Regions from separate parts of the Homo sapiens genome. Here region 1 is linked to region 2. Evidence: fine-mapped expression QTL. A gene starts in region 2. The other region holds a variant in brackets. All regions are shown on one strand. Distances are between the middles of the regions. Region 1 holds the start of LOC124903143 (a long non-coding RNA gene). Region 2 holds the start of SLC46A3 (solute carrier family 46 member 3).

The links. PIP is the estimated chance that this variant, and not a neighbour inherited with it, causes the effect. A credible set is the group of variants that fine-mapping cannot tell apart.
Region 1: its variant is the best candidate, but not a certain one, in a credible set for the expression of SLC46A3 in whole blood (INTERVAL, PIP 0.57).

What each region holds. Positions count from the first base shown.
Region 1 is chr13:28,685,487-28,695,092 of GRCh38, reverse strand. LOC124903143 (a long non-coding RNA gene) reads right to left here and starts at 1,337. Exons shown (of 3, transcript XR_007063738.1): 1 at 929-1,337. RefSeq lists an enhancer at 1,086-1,618. The variant C/G (reference allele first, on the strand shown) is at 4,065.
Region 2 is chr13:28,714,107-28,723,712 of GRCh38, reverse strand. It overlaps SLC46A3 (solute carrier family 46 member 3), which reads left to right and starts at 4,743. Exons shown (of 6, transcript NM_181785.4): 1 at 4,743-5,217; 2 at 5,691-5,903. The coding sequence starts at 5,715. It also overlaps the pseudogene CYP51A1P2.

The DNA of each region.
Region 1 (9,606 bases), 29 kb after region 2:
GACTTTCAAAATATGGTCCTTAGTTTAGTAGCATTACCATAACCTACAAACTTGTTAGAAATGCAAATTCTCAGGCTTCAACTCAACCTTTCTGAATCACAAACTCTAGGAGTGGGGTTCAGCAATCTGTGTTTTTAAAAGCCCTCCTATGATTCTGGTGCACACAAAAGCTTGAGAACTGATGCTCTACTCTATGTCAAGGACTTCTGGCATCTCCATTTCACTTAGTGTGTGCCTGTGGTGAATCCAATTTTACAAAGTATTAAGCCACATCCAGCTCCTTGAAATATTTGAGTCTAGAATTATCTTACATAAGGACATTATACAATATTCTAAAAGCACATTCAAAATCTATTCCTTCATTAAGTGGTGTTGAGTCAAAAAAAAAAAGTCTATTCCATCACACACCTGAATTTCTTTTTTTTAATTTCTGTATCCAGCAAAACTAAGCTTCATAAATGAAGGAGAAATAGTCTTTTCCTGACAAGCAAATGCTGAGGGAATTTGCCACTACCAAATCAGCACTACAAGGAATGCTAAAGGAGTTCTAAATCTTGAAACAAAACTTGGTATGTACCAAAATGGAACCTGCTGAAAGCATCACAGGGTCTATAAAGCAGTAACACAGTGAAAAAAACAAAGTATCTATGTAACAACTAATATGATAAATAGAATAGTACCTCACATCCCAATATTAACATTGAATGTAAATGGCCTAAATGCTCCACTTAAAAGATACACAGTGGGATTTCCAGCCAGATGGCTGAATAGGAACAGCTCCAGTCTGCAGCTCCCAGTGGGATCAACAGAGAAGATAGGTGATTTCTGCATTTCCAAGTGAGATACCTGGTTCATCTCACTGGGACTGGTTGGACAGTGGGAACAGCCCACGGAGGGTGAGCCAAAGCAGGGTGGGGTGTCGCCTTACCTGGGAAGTGCAAGGGGTCGGGGGATTTCCTTTTCCTAGCCAAGGTAAGCTGTGAGAGACTGTACGGGGAGGAACAGTGCACTCCTGCCCAGATACTGTACTTTTCCCACATTCTTTGCAAACGGCAGACCAGGAGATTCCTTCCAGTGCCTGGCTGTGTGGGTCCCACACCCACAGAGCCCAGCAAGCTAAGATCCATTGGCTTGAAATTCTCGCTGCTAGCACAGAAGTCTGAGATCGACCTGAGACGCTGGAGCTTGGCTGGGGGGTGGGGTGTCCACCATTGCTGAGGCTTGAGCAAGCAGTATTATGCTCACAGTGTAAACAAAGCCGCCAGGAATTTCGAACTGGGAGGAGCCCACCGCAGCTCAGCAAGGCCAACTGCCTCTCTAGATTCCACCTCTGTGGGCAGGGCATCTCTGAACAAAAGACAGCAGCCCCAGTCAGGGACCTATAGATAAAACCCCCATCTCCCTGGGACAGAGCACCTGGGGGAAGGGGCAGCTGTGGGCACAGCTTCAGCAGACTTAAACATCCCTGCCTGACAGCTCTGAAGAGAGCAGTGGTTCTCCCAGCACAGTGTTTGAGCTCTGATAACAGACAGACTGCCACCTCAAGTGGGTCCATGACCCCCGTGTAGCCTGACTGGGAGACACCTCCCAGTAAGGTCCAACAGACACCTCATAGAGGAGAGCTCTGGCTGGCATCTGGCAGGTGCCCCTCTGGGACAAAGCTTCCAGAGGAAGGATAAGGCAGCAGTATTTGCTGTTCTGCAGACTCCACTGGTGATATCCCGGCAAACAGGGTCTGGAGTGGACCTCCAGCAAACTCCAACAGACCTGCAGCTGAGGGACCTGTTAGAAGGGAAACTAACAGATGAAAAGAATAGCATCAACATCAACAAAAAGGACATCCACACCAAAACCCCATCTGTAGGTCACCAACATCAAAGACCAAAGGTAGATAAAACCACAAAGATGGGGAGAAACCAGTGCAGAAAGACTGAACATTCCAAAAACCAGAACACCTCTTCTCCTCCAAAGAATCATAACTTCTCGCCAGCAAGAGAAAAAAACTGGACGGAGAATAAGTTTGACGAATTGACAGAAGTAGGCTTCAGAAGGTGGGTAATTACAAACTCCTCCAAGCTAAAGGAGCATGTTCTAACCCAACACAAGGAAGCTAAGAACCTTGAAAAAAGGTTAGATGAATTGCTACATAACCAATGTAGAGAACATAAATGACCTGATGGAGCTCAAAAACACAGCATGAGAACTTTGTAAAGCATACACAAGCTTCAGTAGCCGAATCAATCATGCAGAAGAAAGGATACCAGTGATTGAAGATCAACTTAATGAAATAAAGCGAGAAGACAAGATTAGAGAAAAAGGAGTGAAAAGAAACAAAGGCTCCGAGAAATATGGGACTATGTGAAAAGATCAAATCTACGTTTGATGGCTGTACCTGAAAGTGACAGGGAGAATGGAACCAAGCTGGAAAACACTCTTCAGGATATTATCCAGGAGAACTTCCCCAACCTAGCAAGGCAGGCCAACATTCAAATTCAGGAAATACAGAGAACACAACAAAGATATTCCTCAAGAATAGCAACCCCAATACACAAAATGATCAGATTCACCAAGGTTGAAATGAAGGAAAAAATGTTAAGGGCAGCCAGAAACAAAGGCTGGGTTTCCCGCAAAGTGAAGCCCATCAGACTAACAGTGGATCTCTTGGAAGATACCCTCCAAGCCAGAGAGTGGGGGCCAATATTCAACATTCTTAGGGAAAGGAATTTTCAACCCAGAATTTCATATCCAGCCAAACTAAGCTTCATAAGTGAAGGAGAAATAAAAGCCTTTACAGAAAAGCAAATGCTGAGAGATTTTGTCATTAACCAGGCCTGCATTTCAAGAGCTCCTGAGGGAAGTCCTAAACATGGAAAGGAACAACTGGTACCAGCCACAGCAAAAACATGCCAAATTGTAAAGACCATCGATGCTATGAAGAAACTGCATCAACTAACAGGCAAAATAAATAGCTAGCATCATAATGATAGGATCAAATTCACATATAAAAATATTAACTTTAAATGTCAATGGGTTAAATGCCCCAACTAAAAGACACAGACTGTCAAATTGGATAGAGTCAAGACCCATTGGTGTGCTGTATTCAGGAGACCATCTCACATGCTAAAACACACATAGGCTCAAAATAAAGGGATGGAGGAAGATCTACCAAGCAAATGGAAAGCAAAAAAAAGCAGGGGTTGAAATCCTAGCCTCTGATAAAACAGACTTTAAACCAACAAAGAGCAAAAGAGACAAAGAAGGGCATTATACAATGGTAAAGTGATCAACGCAACAGGAAGAGCTAACTATTCTAAATATATATGCTCCCAGATTCATAAAGCAAGTTCTTAGAGACCTACAAAGAGACTTAGACTCCTACACAATAATAGTGGGAGACTTTAACACCCCACTGTCAATATTAGATTGATGAGACAGAAGATTACCAAGGATATCCAGGACTTGAACTCAGCTCTGGACCAAGTGGACCTAATAGACATCTACAGAACTCTCTACTCCAGATTAACAGAATATACATTCTTCTCAGCACCACATTGCACTTGTTCTAAAATTGACCACATAATTGGAAGTAAAACACTCCTCAGCAAATGTGAAAAAACAGAAATCACAACAAACTGTCTCTCAGACCAGAGTGCAATCAAATTAGAACTCAAGATTAAGAAACTCACTCAAAACCACACAACTACGCGGAAACTGAACAACCTGCTCCTGAATGACTACTGGGTAAATAACGAAATGAAGGCAGAAATAAAGATGTTATTTGAAACCAGTGAGAACAATGACACAGCTTACCAGAATCTCTGAGACACATTTAAAGCAGGGTGGAGAGAGAAATTTTTAGCACTAAATGCCCATAAGAGAAAGCAGGAAAGATCTAAAATCGACAACCTAACATCACAATTAAAAGAACTAGAGAAGCAAGAGCAAACAAACTCAAAAGCTAGCAGAAGACAAGCAATAACTAACATCAGAGCGGAATTGAAGGAGATAGAGACACAAAAAAAACCTTCAAAAAATCAATGAATCCAGAAGCTGTTTTTTTTTAA[C/G]AAGATCAACAAAGTAGATAGACCACCAGCCAGACTAATAAAGAAGAAAAGAGAGAAGAATCAAATAGACACAATAAAAAATAATAAAGGGTATATCACCACTGATCCCACAGAAATAACAAACTATCATCAGAGAATACTATAAACACCTCTATGCAAATAAACTAGAAAATCTAGAAGAAATGGATAAATTTCTGGACACATATATCATCCCAAGACTAAACCAGGAAGAAGTTGAATCTCTGAATAGACCAATAACAGGTTCTGAAATTGAGGCAATAATTAATAGCTTACCAACCAAAAAAAATCCAGGACCAGATGGATTCACAGCTGAACTCTACCAAAGTGACAAAGAGGAGCTGGTATCATTCCTTCTGAAACTATTCCAATCAATAGAAAAAGAGAGAATCCTCCCTAACTCATTTTATGAGGCCAGCATCATTCTGATACCAAAACCTGGCAGAGACACACCAAAAAAAGAAAATTTTAGGCTAATATCCCTGATAAACATCAATGCAAAAATCCTCAGTAAAATACTGGCAAACCAAATCCAGCAGCACATCAAAAAGCTTATTCACCACAATCAAGTCGGCTTCATCCCTGGGATGCAACGCTGGTTCAACATACACCAATCAATAAATGTAATCCATCACATGAACAGAACCAACAACAAAACCACATGATTATCTCAATAGATGCAGAAAAGGCCTTCGACAAAATTCAACACCTCTTCATACTAAAAACTCTCAATAAACTAGGTATTGATGGAACGTATCTCAAAATAATAAGAGCTATTTATGACAAACCCACAGTCAATATCATACTGAATGGGCAAAAACTGGAAGCATTCCCTTTGAAAACCAGCACAAGACAAGGAGGCCCTCTCTCTCCTGTTCAACATAGTATTGGAAATTCTGGCCAGGGCAATCAGGCAAGAGCAAGAAATAAAGGGTATTCAATTAGGAAAAGAGGAAGTCAAATTGTCTCTGTTTGCAGATGACATGATTGTATATTTAGAAAACCCCATTGTCTCAGCCCAGAATCTCCTTAAGCTGATAAGCAACTTCAGCAAAGTCTCGGGATACAAAATCAATGTGCAAAAATCACAAGCATTCCTATACACCAATAACAGACAGAGAGTCAAATCATGAGTGAACTCCCATTCACAACTGCTTCAAAGAAAATAAAATACCTAGGAATCCAACTTATAAGGGATGTGAAGGATCTCTTCAAGGAGAACTACAAACCACTGCTCAACGAAATAAAAGAGGACACAAACAAATGGAAGAACATTCCATGCTCACGGATAGGAAGAATCAATATTGTGAAAATGGCCATAGTGCCCAAAGTAATTTATAGATTCAATGCTATCCCCATCAAGCTACCACTGACCTTCTTCACAGAACTGGAAAAAACTACTTGAAATTTCAAATGGAACCAAAAAAGAGCCCACATAGCCAAGACAATCCTAAGCAAGAAGAACAAAGCTGGAGGCATCATGCTACCTGACTTCAAACTATACTACAAGGCTACAGCAACCAAAACAGCATGGTACTGGTAGCAAAACAGATATATAGACCAATGGAACAGAACAGATGCCACAGAAATAACACCACACATCTACAACCATCTGATATTTGACAAACCTGACAAAAACAAGCAATGGGGAAAGGACTCCCTATTTAATAAATGGTGCTGGGAAAACTGGGTAGCCATATGCAGAAAGCTGAAACTGGATCCCTTCCTTATACCTTATACAATAATTAACTCAAGATGAATTAATGACTTAAATGTAAGACCTAAAACCATAAAAACTCTAGAAGAAAACCTAAGCAATACCATTCAGGACATAGGCATGGGCAAAGACTTCATGACTAAACACCAAAAGCAATGGCAACAAAAGCCAAAATAGACAAATGGGATCTAATTAAACTAAAGAGCTTCTGCACAGCAAAAGAAACTATCTTCAGAGTGAACAGGCAACCTACAGATTGGGAGAAAATTTTTACAATCTATCCATCTGACAAAGGGCTAATATCCAGAATCTACAAAGAATTTAAACAAATTTATAAGACAAAAACAAACAGCCTCATCAAAAAATGGGCAACGGATATGAACAGACACTTCTTAAAAGAAGATGTTTATGCAGCCAGCAAACTTATGAAAAAATGCTCATTATCACTGGTCATTAGAGAATGCAAATCAATACCACAATGAGATAGCATCTCACGCCAGTTAGAATGGTGATCATTAAAAAGTCAGGAAACAACAGGTGCTGGGGAGGATGTGGAGTAATAGGAACAATTTTACACTGTTGGGAGTGTAAATTAGTTCAACCATTGTGGAAGATAGTGTGGTGATTCCTCAAGGATCTAGAACTAGAAATACCATTTGACCTAGCAATCCCATTACTTGGTATATACCCAAAGGATTATAAATCATTCTACTATAAAGACACATGCACACGTATGTTTACTGCAGCACTGTTCACAATAGCAAAGTCTTGGAACCAACCCAAATGCCCATCAGTGATAGACTGGATAAAGAAAATGTGGCACATATACACCATGGAATATTATGCAGCCATAAAAAAGGATGAGTTCATGTTCTTTGCAGGGACATAGATGAAACTGGAAACCATCATTTTCAGCAAAGTTACACAAGAACAGAAAACCAAACACTGCATGTTCTCACTCATAAGTGAGAGTTGAACAATGAGAACACGTGGACACAGGGAGGGGAACATTACATGCTGGGGCCTGCTGGGGGGTGGGAGGGCTGGGGGAGGGATAGCATTAGGAGAAATACCTAATGTAAATGACGAGTTGATACTTAATGTAAATGTAAATACCTAATGTAAATGACCAACATGGCACATGTATACCTATGTAACAAACCTGCACATTGTGCACATGTACCCTAGAACTTAAAGTCTTATAATTCAAAAAAAAGAATTAGAAAAAAAAGATACAAAATCAGAGAATTAATTTAAAAAAATACACCAACCAAATATTTGATGTCTTCTAGAGCCTCACCTGACAGATAAGGACTCATAAACTCAAGGTAAAGGTGTGGAAAAAGATATTCCACACAAATGGCAATCAAAAGTGAGCAGGAGTAGCTACTCTTATATAAGACAAAACAGACTTTAAAGCAACCACAGTAAAAAAAGACAAATAAGGACATTATGTAATGATAAAAGAATCAGTCCAACAAGAAGACACTACAATCCTGGATTTATATTTACCTAACACTGGAACTCCCAGATTTATAAAACAATTCCTACTAGACCTAAGAGATGAGACAGACAGCAACACAATAATAGTGGGGGACTTAATACTCCACCGAAAGCACTAGAGAGATCATCAAGACAAAGCCAACAAAGAAACAACAGACTTAAACTATACCCTAGAACAAATGGACTTAACAGCTATTTACAGAACATTCTCAACAACTATAGAGTATACATTCTTCTCATAGGCACACGGAACATCCTCCAAGATAGACCATATAACAGGCCACAAAACAAGTCTCAATAAATTTAAGAAAATTGAAATTGTATCAAGTATCTTCTCAGATCAGAGTGGAATAAAACTGGAAATCAACTCCAAAACTATATAGATACATGGAAATTAAATAATCTGCTCTTGAATGATTTTTTGGTTAACAATGAAATCAAGTTGAAAATTTAAAAATTCTTTGAAATAAATGATAATAGTGACACAAGTTATCAAAACCTCTGGGATATAGCAAAAGCAGTGCTAAGAGGAAAACTCATAGCATTAAATACCTACATCAAAAAGTCTGAAAGAGAACAAACCGACAATCTAATGTCACACCTCAAGGAACTAGGGAAACAAGAACAAACTAAACCCAAAGCCAACAGAAGAAAAGAAATAACAAAGGTCAGGGCGGAACTAAATGAAATTGAAACAAAAAAAATACAAAAGATAAATGAAACAAAAAAGCTGATTCTTTAAAAAGATACACAAAATCGATAGATCATTAGTGAGATTAAGAAGAGAGAGGTCCAAATAAGCTCAATTAGAAATGAAACTGGAAATATTACAACTGACCTCTGAAATACAAATGATCATTCAAGGCTACTATGAACACCTTTATGTGCACAACCTAGAAAATCTAGAGGAAATGGATAAATTCCTGGAAACATATAACCCTCTTAGATCAAATCAGAAAGAAACAGAAGCCCTGAACATACCAATAACAAGCAGCAAAATGGAATCATTTATTTAAAAATTGCCAATGAAAAAAGTACACGACCAGATGGATTCATAGCTGAATTCTACTAGACATTCAAATTGGTACCAATCCTACTGAAACTATTCCAAATGATGAGAAAGAGGGAATCCTTCGTAAATCATTCTATGACACCAATATCACCCTAATACCAATAGCAGGGAAGGACATTTAAAAAAAAAGAAATCTACAAACCAATATCCCTGATGAACATAGATGCAAAAATCCTCAAACAAATACTAGCTAACTGAATCCAACAGCACATCCAAAAGATAATACATCATAATCAAGTGAGTTTCACTCCAGGGATGGTTTAACATACACAAGTCAATAAATGTGATACATCACATAAACAGAATTAAAAATAAAAATCATATCATCATCTCAATAGATGCAGAAAAAGCATTTGATAAAATCCAGCATCGCTTTAGGATAAAAACCCTTAACAAAATAGGCATAGAAGGGACTTACCTCAAAGTAATAAAAGCCATATATGGGAAACCCATAGCCAACTAGCCAACATCATTCTGATTGGGGAAAAGTTGAAAATATTCCTCCTGAGAACTGGAACAAGACAAGGATGCCCACTTTCACCATTTCTCCTCAACATAGTTCTAGAAGTTCTAGCCAGAGCAATTAGGCAAGAGGAAGAAATAAAGGGCATCCAATTTGGAAAAGAGGAAGTCGAACTGTCGCTATTCACTGATGATATGACTGTATACCTAGAAAACCCTAAAGACTCATCCAAAAGGCTCCTACGTCTGATAAATGAATTCAGTAAAGTCTCAGGTTACAAAATCAACATACACAAATCAGTAGCACTGATATACACCAACAATGACCATGCTGAGGATCAAATCAAGAACTCAATCCCTTTTATAAAAGCTGCAAAAAACAAACAAACAAACAACCTAGGACTCTACTTAACCAAGGAGGTGAAAGAGCTCTACAAGGAAAACCACAAAACACTGCGGAAAGAAATCACAGATGACACAAACAAATGGAAATATGACCCATGCTCATGGATGGGAAAAATCAGTATTGTGAAAATGACCATACCGCCCAAAGCAATCTACAGATTCAATGCAATTCCCATCAAAATACCATCATCATTTTTCACAGAACTAGAAAAAACAATCCTAAAATTCATATGGAACCAAAAAAGAGCCCACATGGCCAAAACAATATCAAGCAAACAGAACAAATCTGGAGGCATAAAGTTACCGGACTTCAAATTATACTGTCACAGGATCCTTAGGGTGTCGCTTTTCCAGCTGGAAGCCTC
Region 2 (9,606 bases):
ACATTTACTTACCTTCTGGGGAGTGATGCTGCTGCGCTGCTTTTTAATAGTAAAAATGAAGACCTGAATGCAGAAGATGTCTACAGTCACCTGACGACACCTGTGTTTGGGAAGGGAGTTGCATACGATGTGCCTAATCCAGTTTTCTTGGAGCAGAAGAAAATGTTAAAAAGTGGCCTTAACAAAGCCCACTTTAAACAGCATGTTTCATTGGGAGATATACCTAATGCTAGATGACAAGTTAGTGGGTGCAGCGCACCAGCATGGCACATGTATACATATGTAACTAACCTGCACAATGTGCACATGTACCCTAAAACTTAAAGTATAATAAAAAAAAAAAAGAAAAAGAAACAAAGGAGTACTTTCAGAGTTGGGGAGAAAGTGGAGAAAAAAATGTGTTTGAAGCTCTTTCTGAGCTCATAATTTTAACAGCTAGCCACTGTTTGCATGGAAAGGAAATCAGAAGTCAACTCAATGAAAAGGTAGCACAGCTGTATGCAGATTTGGATGGAGGTTTCAGCCATGCAGCCTGGCTCTTACCAGGTTGGCTGCCTTTGCCTAGTTTCAGATGCAGGGACAGAGCTCATTGGGAAATCAAGGATATTTTCTATAAGGCAATCCAGAAACGCAGACAGTCTCAAGAAAAAATTGATGACATTCTCCAAACTTTACTAGATGCTACATACAAGGATGGGCGTCCTTTGACTGATGATGAAGTAGCAGGGATGCTTATTGGATTACTCTTGGCAGGGCAGCATTCATCCTCAACTACTAGTGCTTGGATGGACTTCTTTTTGGCCAGAGACAAAACACTTCAAGAAAAATGTTATTTAGAACAGAAAACAGTCTGTGGAGAGAATCTGCCTCCTTTAACTTATGACCAACTCAAGGATCTAAATTTACTTGATCGCTGTATAAAAGAAACATTAAGACTTAGACCTCCTATAATGATCATGATGAGAATGGCCAGAACTCCTCAGACTGTGGTAGGGTATACCATTCCTCCAGGACATCAGGTGTGTGTTTCTCCCACTGTCAATCAAAGACCTAAAGACTCATGGGTAGAACGCCTGGACTTTAATCCTGATTGCTACTTACAGGATAACCCAGCATCAGGGGAAAAGTTTGCCTATGTGCCATTTGGAGCTGGGTGTCATCGTTGAATTGGGGAAAATTTTGCCTATGTTCAAATTAAGACAATTTGGTCCACTATGCTTCGTTTATATGAATTTGATCTCATTGATGGATATTTTCCCATCGTGAATTATACAACTATGATTCACACCCCTGAAAACCCACTTATCCATTACAAACGAAGATCAAAATGAAAAAGGTTGCAAGGAACCAATATATGTGATCATCACTGTAAGCCACAAAGGCATTCGAAGAGAATGAAGTGTACAAAACAACTCTTGTAGTGTACTGTTTTTTTTGAGTGTGTAATTCTAAAAGCCAGTTTATGATTTAGTATTTTGTTAACTGAATGGTTCTATCAAATATAATAGCATTTGAAACATTTTCTAATAGCTATGATACTTATACATGTGCTTTCAGGAAGTTCATTAGTAAAACAATTGTTCAGGAGGATCTAGGTAATTGGCAGATTCTAAATAATATAATTTCCAGGTAGTAATTTTAAGAGTACTCTTAGCTCTTGCCAAATAAGTTCAGGGTATTCAAATCTTGGACTAGTCCTGCAAGGTATAAAGAATAAAAATCCCGGTGAGATACTTGGAAACCTCAGGTTATTATTTATCTGGGCAATTATTGTGTGGGTGAGGATGGAAGGGCAGGGAATAATTGAACATCTAAAGCCTTGAATGAGAGAATACTAATTCTTTTGGTATGATGATACTCAGAAATGGAGATGTTGTAGAAAAAAAATATCCTTTGGAATTTTAACTAAAATCACTGAATATAGGAAATTAAGAGATCCGGGACCATATTTGATAAGATTTCCTAAAAATAATGTAATTATTAATGCCAAAAACTGCTCATGTATCTTGATCTAATTACGAAATAATTACATATTTACCTGATAAATATGTATCTAGGTCTTCAAGGTCACATTTATGTGGAAGTCCAAAGTCAAGTCCTTAGGGGATAATTTTGTTTTGGCTCAGTTGTTCCCTGCTTCCTCTCTCTCTCTTTTTTTTTTTTTTTTTTTTTGAGATGGAGTCTCGCTCTGTCGCCCAGGCTGGAGTGCAGTGGCGCGATCTCAGCTCACTGCATCCTCCGCCTCCCGGGTTTAAGCAATTGTCTACATCAGCCTCCTGAGTAGTTGGGATTACAGGCACCTGCCACCACGCCTGGCTAATTTTTGTATTTTTAGTAGAGACAGGGTTTCACTCTTTTGGCTAGGCTGGTCTTGAACTCCTGACCTCGTGATCCACCCGCCTCGGCCTCCCAAAGTGCTGGGATTACAGGCATGAGCCACATGCCTGGCCCTCCCTGCTTCCTCTCTAGAATCCAATTAGGGATGTTTGTTACTACTTATGTTGATTAAAACAGTTAACAAACTTTTTTTCTTTTTAAAATGTGAGATCAGTGAACTCTGGTTTTAATATAATCTGAAACAAGGTCCTTGGGAGTAATATAATTGGTCACATTCTGTAAAGCACATTCTGTTTAGGAATCACTTATCTCAAATTATAACTCAGGGCCTAACTATATGAGATGGCTGAAAAAATACCACATTGTCTGTTTTCACTAGATGATGCCAAAATATTTTGCTTTACGTATATTACAGTTCTTTTTAAAACACTGGAAGACTCATGTTAAACTCTAATTGTGAAGGCAGAAACTCTGCTAATTTTTCACATTAAAATTCTCTTTGAAAAAATACAAAAAAAAAATGACTGTTGTCACCATAGCGATCAGCAGCAGAACTCATTAAGAAGACCTGGCTTTCTTCTTCGTGTGGAAGAGTAGGAATGCAAAGCGTGGAAGTATATTGGACATTAATTATTTTTGCCCCATAAGAAAGGACATTTTCAGCAGGGCACGGTGGCGCATGCCTGTAATCCCAGCACTTTGGGAGGCTGAGGTGGGCAGGTCCCCTGAGGTCAGGAGTTCAAGATCATCCTGGTCAACATGGTGAAACCCTGTCTCTACTAAAAATACAAAAATTAGCCGGCCATGGTGGCGCACACTTGTAACCCCAGCTACTCAGGAGGCTGAGGCAGGATCATTGCTTGAATCCGGGAGGCGGAGGTTGCAGTGAGCCAAGATCCTGCAACTGCACTCCGGCCTGGGTGACAGAGCGAGACTCCACCTCAAAAAAAAAAAAAAAAAAAAAGGACATCTTCTAAGTGCCGTTTAGAATAATATAGTACTTAGTACAAAGTACTGCAACTTAAAATATTATGTCTTCCTTGCAAACTGTATCTTACTCATGTTTGTTTATCTTCTTTCCAATATCCATGCTCCATTGTTTGAAACTCATAACAAGTGCTTCATAAATGCTGATTTGAAGAAGCTGGGAAGTAAGATTAAGTGGCAAGTCCAAGGTTACCAGCTACTAAGTATCAGTTAGGACTCAAACCTAAGACGTTTAACTCTGCATTCAGTGACACAACTGTCATTTAAGGAGTGCTGAGGAAGAGAAAGCAGCTCTGACATCCAGGTGCTGGAACTATCAGCTGGGCCTTGGTGTTGCTAAGAACTTTTCTGGACCATGGTGTTCTGTCGAATGAAAACAATTTCACGGAACACCAAAGTCAGACAAGAGCATTCTGTAACCATGATCAAGACAAAAACAAGACCACGTCATAATTTTGTCTGAACACGGACAAAATTTAGGCACTGTCTAAACCACAAAAATGACAAATATGTGTGACTGTTGCTTCTTTATCATTCATGGCTTTAGCCTCTGTCTAGTCTTGACTCCTAAATAAGACTTATTAAGATACCCAATCATAGAATTACTGCCATTTCCTGACAGCAACCAATCCAGAGTAAGGCCTTGCTTTCTTGAACTCTTCCCAAAATCACATAACGCAAGCCCATAGTAAATTCTAACACCTTCTTACTGAGATGCCCCCACGGTTCCTCATGCATGCATTTCTCCTGGCTTCAAGAAGTAGTAGCTCAATTCTTTTACTACAAGTTGTTCCTGGTGGGTGTGTTGGAGAGCACTGACAACTCCTCCTATGTCCAGGGGCTGTGTTGTGTATACATGCTGAGTGTTTAATTAGACAACCCTGTAAGACTTATCATCCCCACGTGGCAGATAAAGACATGGAGGTTCATGAAAATTTAACGATTTGCCCAAGTCCCCCCTCCCCTCCCCAGGAAAAGCCAGCGACCACATTCCAACCCTCCGCTAACTCTGCATTGAGCACTCTCTTTCCTATGCCCTCCACCTGCGCCCATTCCCCTCTTCTGCGGGCCGACCGGGATCCTGCTGGGGGCTACAGCCCAAACATGTTACTTTTCCAACTGTTGTTTTATGTGTTTCTATGAGAAAGGATATTCGGATTCAGAAATGCTTTGCAACTCCAGAGCTGTTGAGCCTGCGGCGCGGCCCACCACTCAACAGCGGTGCTGAGTGGCTGCTCGGTCGCGCGGGATCCACTCCGGGCCTCCGAGGGTGGGTGCACGATCCACTAGCCACTCTCCAGGGGAGAGTGACGTCCGGGTGGACCAATCGCCGCTGGGGCACCGACCGCTGGGCCCAATCGCAGGAGAGCCGGGTAGAACAGTGACAGCGCCGCGGCAGCCGACCCCGCCTCCTCGGCGGACAGCGATGCTCAGCTGGCTGCGGCCGAGTCATCGCCTAGCGCTGGCAGGGCCGCTGACCGACCGACGGAGGCGCCGATTGGCCGATTGTCCACTGCGCAGAAGGAGCAGCTGCTCCGCGCCCCGCCGCGCCGCGCTGAGGCCGAGGTCCGCAGGGCCGCGGGGAAGCCGAGGGCTGCCGGAGAACCCTGCAGGTGTCACTCGGGACGCGGAAGTGCGCTTGCCGAGGTTTGCTTTACAATACGCTTGAGACTCCCCGACAAGCGTAATTTGGTCGAGTTCGACGGGAAAGTACTCTCCCCACCCCAGCGCCGGCCGCGTAGTCCGAGGTTACTGTCCCCGGCGCGTCCTCTGTTGCCCCAGTCCAGAGGCTGCCCTTGAACCCGGGCGCGCACGAGCGCAGGGCATCCGAGGCGACAGCCCCTGGCACGGCCCGACCTGTACCCAGCCTGGCAGGAAGACTGTAATCGTGGGGTGAGTTAAAAATAAGGCCCTTTCGATTGGGAGCTGCTTTTTAAAACGCCCCCTCCCTGTCCGTTTTTAATACGCAGCAAAATAACAATAACAATTGTGCAACTGTCGCTTCCCAAAAGGAACCTCATTGTTGAACTTACGAAAAATCAGTTGGCAATATACAGTGTGGGAACTGTACTGTGATCATTGGCTAACCAAGATGGGTGACAGTTTATGATTTCAAAGACTCAAAGGCGGCTTGAGTCCTACAATGTCCTACTCATAAAAATGGAAAGCATGGCAGCCTCAGGTTGTTACAGAGTACTCTACTCCAAAGTAAAAGTTATTCTCTGAGAAAGTGCTTACTGCCTTTTCTGTTCTCTAGTTTGCTTGTTTAAACATTTACTCCACAAAATTGCTCAAACTTACCCATCTTTGAATATCTAGCCTCTGGGATGAGACAGATGATCTTTCTCCGTTTTCACTTTTTATAGAATACAGCTACCTACCCAGGCAATATGAAGATTTTATTTGTAGAACCTGCCATTTTCCTTAGTGCATTTGCTATGACTTTGACCGGTCCACTGACAACGCAATATGTTTATCGGAGAATATGGGAAGAAACTGGCAACTACACTTTTTCATCTGATAGCAATATTTCTGAGTGTGAAAAAAACAAAAGCAGCCCAATTTTTGCATTCCAGGAGGTAAGAAATTACAATATCCATAGTATTTAATAAAATGGGAATGTATACCGGGCTTTGAGTTAAAGAGGACCGTGAACTCATCATCCATTGGTCTCTCTAGGGCGGCCATCAAAGTCCTAAATCCCAAACCTAATGGCCTTTACTGGGAACTCACCTCATTTGAAGTTTCCTGACACCTTTCAAATCTGCCTCTTCTTCTTAAAACACCCTCCTGCTCTGTGACACTAGCTCTTCTCCTTTCTCTCGGAAAATTTCACCACAGTGTCATCTCTTCTGTGGCTGTCTCCTTGCTTTGTCCTAAAAAAAAAAAAAAAAAAAAAAAAAGTCTGAAAATTGGGGCAGGGCAGGCTGGAATGAGCTACTTGGTGGACAGGGGTGGCTGAAACATGGTGTTTCTGTCTCTCACTTGCTCTATTCTTCCCCAATCCTTTTACTGTTTCTGCATGTCCCAGCTTTCAGGGACTCTAGAAAGTGGCCCATCACTGAAGATTGTGAGCCAGTGTCTGTCACAGGGTGGGGTGGAGGAGCATTTATTATTTGGTGGTGGTATCAAATCAGCCTTGGCTCTCACGTGTTGAGGAGCAGCTGTGTGGGGACATCTGGAGTGGGGAGTACCCACCGTTGACACCAAAGATGTTTAGCCAGATATTAAGGAGGCTTTCTTCCTCCCTCTCCAGCAATCTCCCCAGTTTTTTTGTGTGTAAAACAGGAGGCAGGCACTTCACCATTCTCCTGGTCCCTTGGGCAGTTTTTGACAAAAGTCTACCATTTCAAAATGCAAAGAGATAGTATCCAGGTTTGGAAATTTTTTTTTTTTTCCTACAATGCCTCAAAAACAAATCACACCTGTAAACTCTAAACTCTTCTTCTGGGGGATATTTTGTGATTGTAAAGGAGTGGTGCTGCCTTCCCAGTGAAAGATGAAATGAATTAAAAGGAATTGAGTCACCTCCTGCTGGCTCTGTGAGTCTCTGTGACTGGGAGAAGAGCCTGAGAAGGAGGAAATGGCAAACCGCCCCAGAGGCAAGGTTCTAGCACTTCCCGAGGTGTCAGGTGGAACCTTGCTGGGGTGAGGTTAGGCAATTTGGCACAATCCCTAATCTTACTCATTTCCTCATTCCCATGGGAAACGTTTTCTTGGGAGTGATTATTTCTGAGCAGCCTGGAAGACATCAAGGTTCTGGCGTAGAGTAAGGTCATAAAAAAAAAGGGCCCTGAGTCTCACCCAGCGGTCTTATCTCCCTTCAAGAATGTCTCCTAGGTCATTCCCGGGAGTGAGAAGCTTCGATCGGCTCACAGTTTCTTTTTGTAAGTGTTTATTCATGCATTAAACAAATGTTTATCACACATTATCCTGTGGTGACAAGGATAAGCAAAACGGCTCTGAACCCGAGAAGCCCAGAGTCTCTCTAGGTTGAGAAAAACACACATAAACAGAATAGAGTTTAACAAATCCTCTTAGTTTCAAAGTTGGGGTCCTACAGCAGGGATGCTCTTCAGATTTCGGCTCTGGAGACGTTTGTTAATATACATACTTGAATCCCATCCTGGAACCTCTAACACAGTGTTTTTTAACCTTGACTGGACATGGGAATCACCTGAAGTGTTTTTTATTTTATTTTGTTTATTATGTATTTATGCATGTATGGTACTTTTTGAGACAGGGTCTCATTCTGCTGCCCACGCTGGAGTGGAGTGGCGTGGTAATAGCTCGCTGCAACTTTGAACTCCTAGGCTCAAGGGATCCTCTCACCTCAGCCTCCTGAGTAGCTGGGACTACAGGCACGTGCCACTACACTCAGCTAATTTTTGATTTTTTTTTTTTTTTTTTGTAGAGACAGGGTCTTCCTCTGTTTCCCAGGCTGGCCTTGAACTCGTGGCCTCAAGTGAGCCTCCTGTCTGGTCCTCTCAAAGTGTTGGGATTACAGGCGTGAGCCACCGTGCCCGGTCTTATTTTATTTTTTTAATTGACAGATAATCATTGTACATATTCATGGAGTATACAGTGGTGTTTTGATACATACAATGTATAGTGATCAGATCAGGCTAATTAGCATATCCATCAACTCAGACATCTCTCATTTCTTTGTGTTGGGAACATTCAATACCCTCCTTCTTGCTATTTGAAACTATATAACATATTACTGTTAACTGTAGTCACCCTGTGGTGCTACAGAACACCAGAACTTATTCCTCCTGTCTAGCTGTAATTTTGTATCCTTTAACAAATTTCTTCTTACAGGCTCATCAATTTCTGTATTTGATTCTGTGCTTTCTTTTGGCTGACCTGTAGGAGCAGGCCCCCTGGTTGCAGTGGGAGGGACCAGGGAGGAGAGGACAAGAATGTCTGGGAAAGTCTGCTGCTCTTGCCCTCTTGGACTGAGGGAAGACGGGCCTTGGTCCAGCCAGCTTGGTGGCTTCTGCAACCATACAGGGGGCAAGTGTTGGCCCACCTCCAGCCTGGCCCAGCTGCTGAGAGCCCCCTACTGCCCACAGCAGTGGTCTCATGTCAAAGATTTTTGCCGAATTTTCAAATTGACTTTTTCATTTATTGTTTCTTAATTGGATTAATATTCAAGAGAACCTACTACTCTAGATCCCTTCCCTTAAAGTTGGTGCTCTTAGACCTCTGGGAACCAGAAACCACCCCTACCCTCACCTGCCACCCACGCTGGAGTGGTGGCCTACTCTCTGTTTGCTCCTTAGGACAAAGGAACATTTTTGTTTCCCAGGAGGCACCACCATCGCCTTCAGTGATTCATTCAATGACTAAAAACGGTTTACATCTGTTTTTTAAATCAGCTTAGCATTTCCCAGTATACAAATGGCACACACTTTTTATATTGACTTTGGAAAATACAGAGCAATGGCAAGCAAAAAATGTTTTAAGATCATGCAAAATTTCTTCCATCAAGTAACTAGTGTAATGATTGACACATCTTCCAATCTGTGTGTGTATGTCATCTGTCATTGTCATTTTGGTCCTTGGAAGTTGAGTTTATCTTACTCCTCAGGTCATGACATACTACCACCTTTATTTACTTTTTATTTTTATTTATTTGAGATGGAGTCTCACTGTGTCACCCAGGCTGGAGTGCAATGGCACAATCTCAGCTCATTGCAACCTCTGCCTCCCAGGTTCAAGCAATTCTTCTGCCTCAGCCTCCCAAGTAGCGGAGACTACAGGCGTACGCCACCACGCCTGGCTAATTTTTGTATTTTTAGTAGAGACAGGGTTTTGCCATGTTGGCCAGGCTGGTCTCAAACTCCTGACCTCAAGTGATCCGCCCACCTTGGCCCCCCAAAGTGCTAGGATTACAGGCGTGAGCCACCGTGCCTGGCCTAGTTTTTTTAAATTTATTTTTAGAGACAGGGTCTCGCTATGTTGCCCAGGCTGGTCTCAAATTCCTGGGCACAAGTGATGCTCCCACCTCGGCCTCCCACAGTGCTGGGATTATAAGCGTAAGCCACCACACTCAGCCACGGTATGCTACCATCTGTAGACAGTGTAAGTCTCCTCTTTCAATTTTATCTTATTTTAAATTCTTTTATTTAGTAAATAAAGGAAGATGTTTCTCACTAATCTATCTGTGAAGACATAGGTAAAAAAAAAAAATAAGGGCAACAGCCAAGCTCTCCCTAAATAAAGGTTTTTTTTTTTTTTTTTTGTATTTTTTGGTAGAGACAGAGTTTTACCATGTTG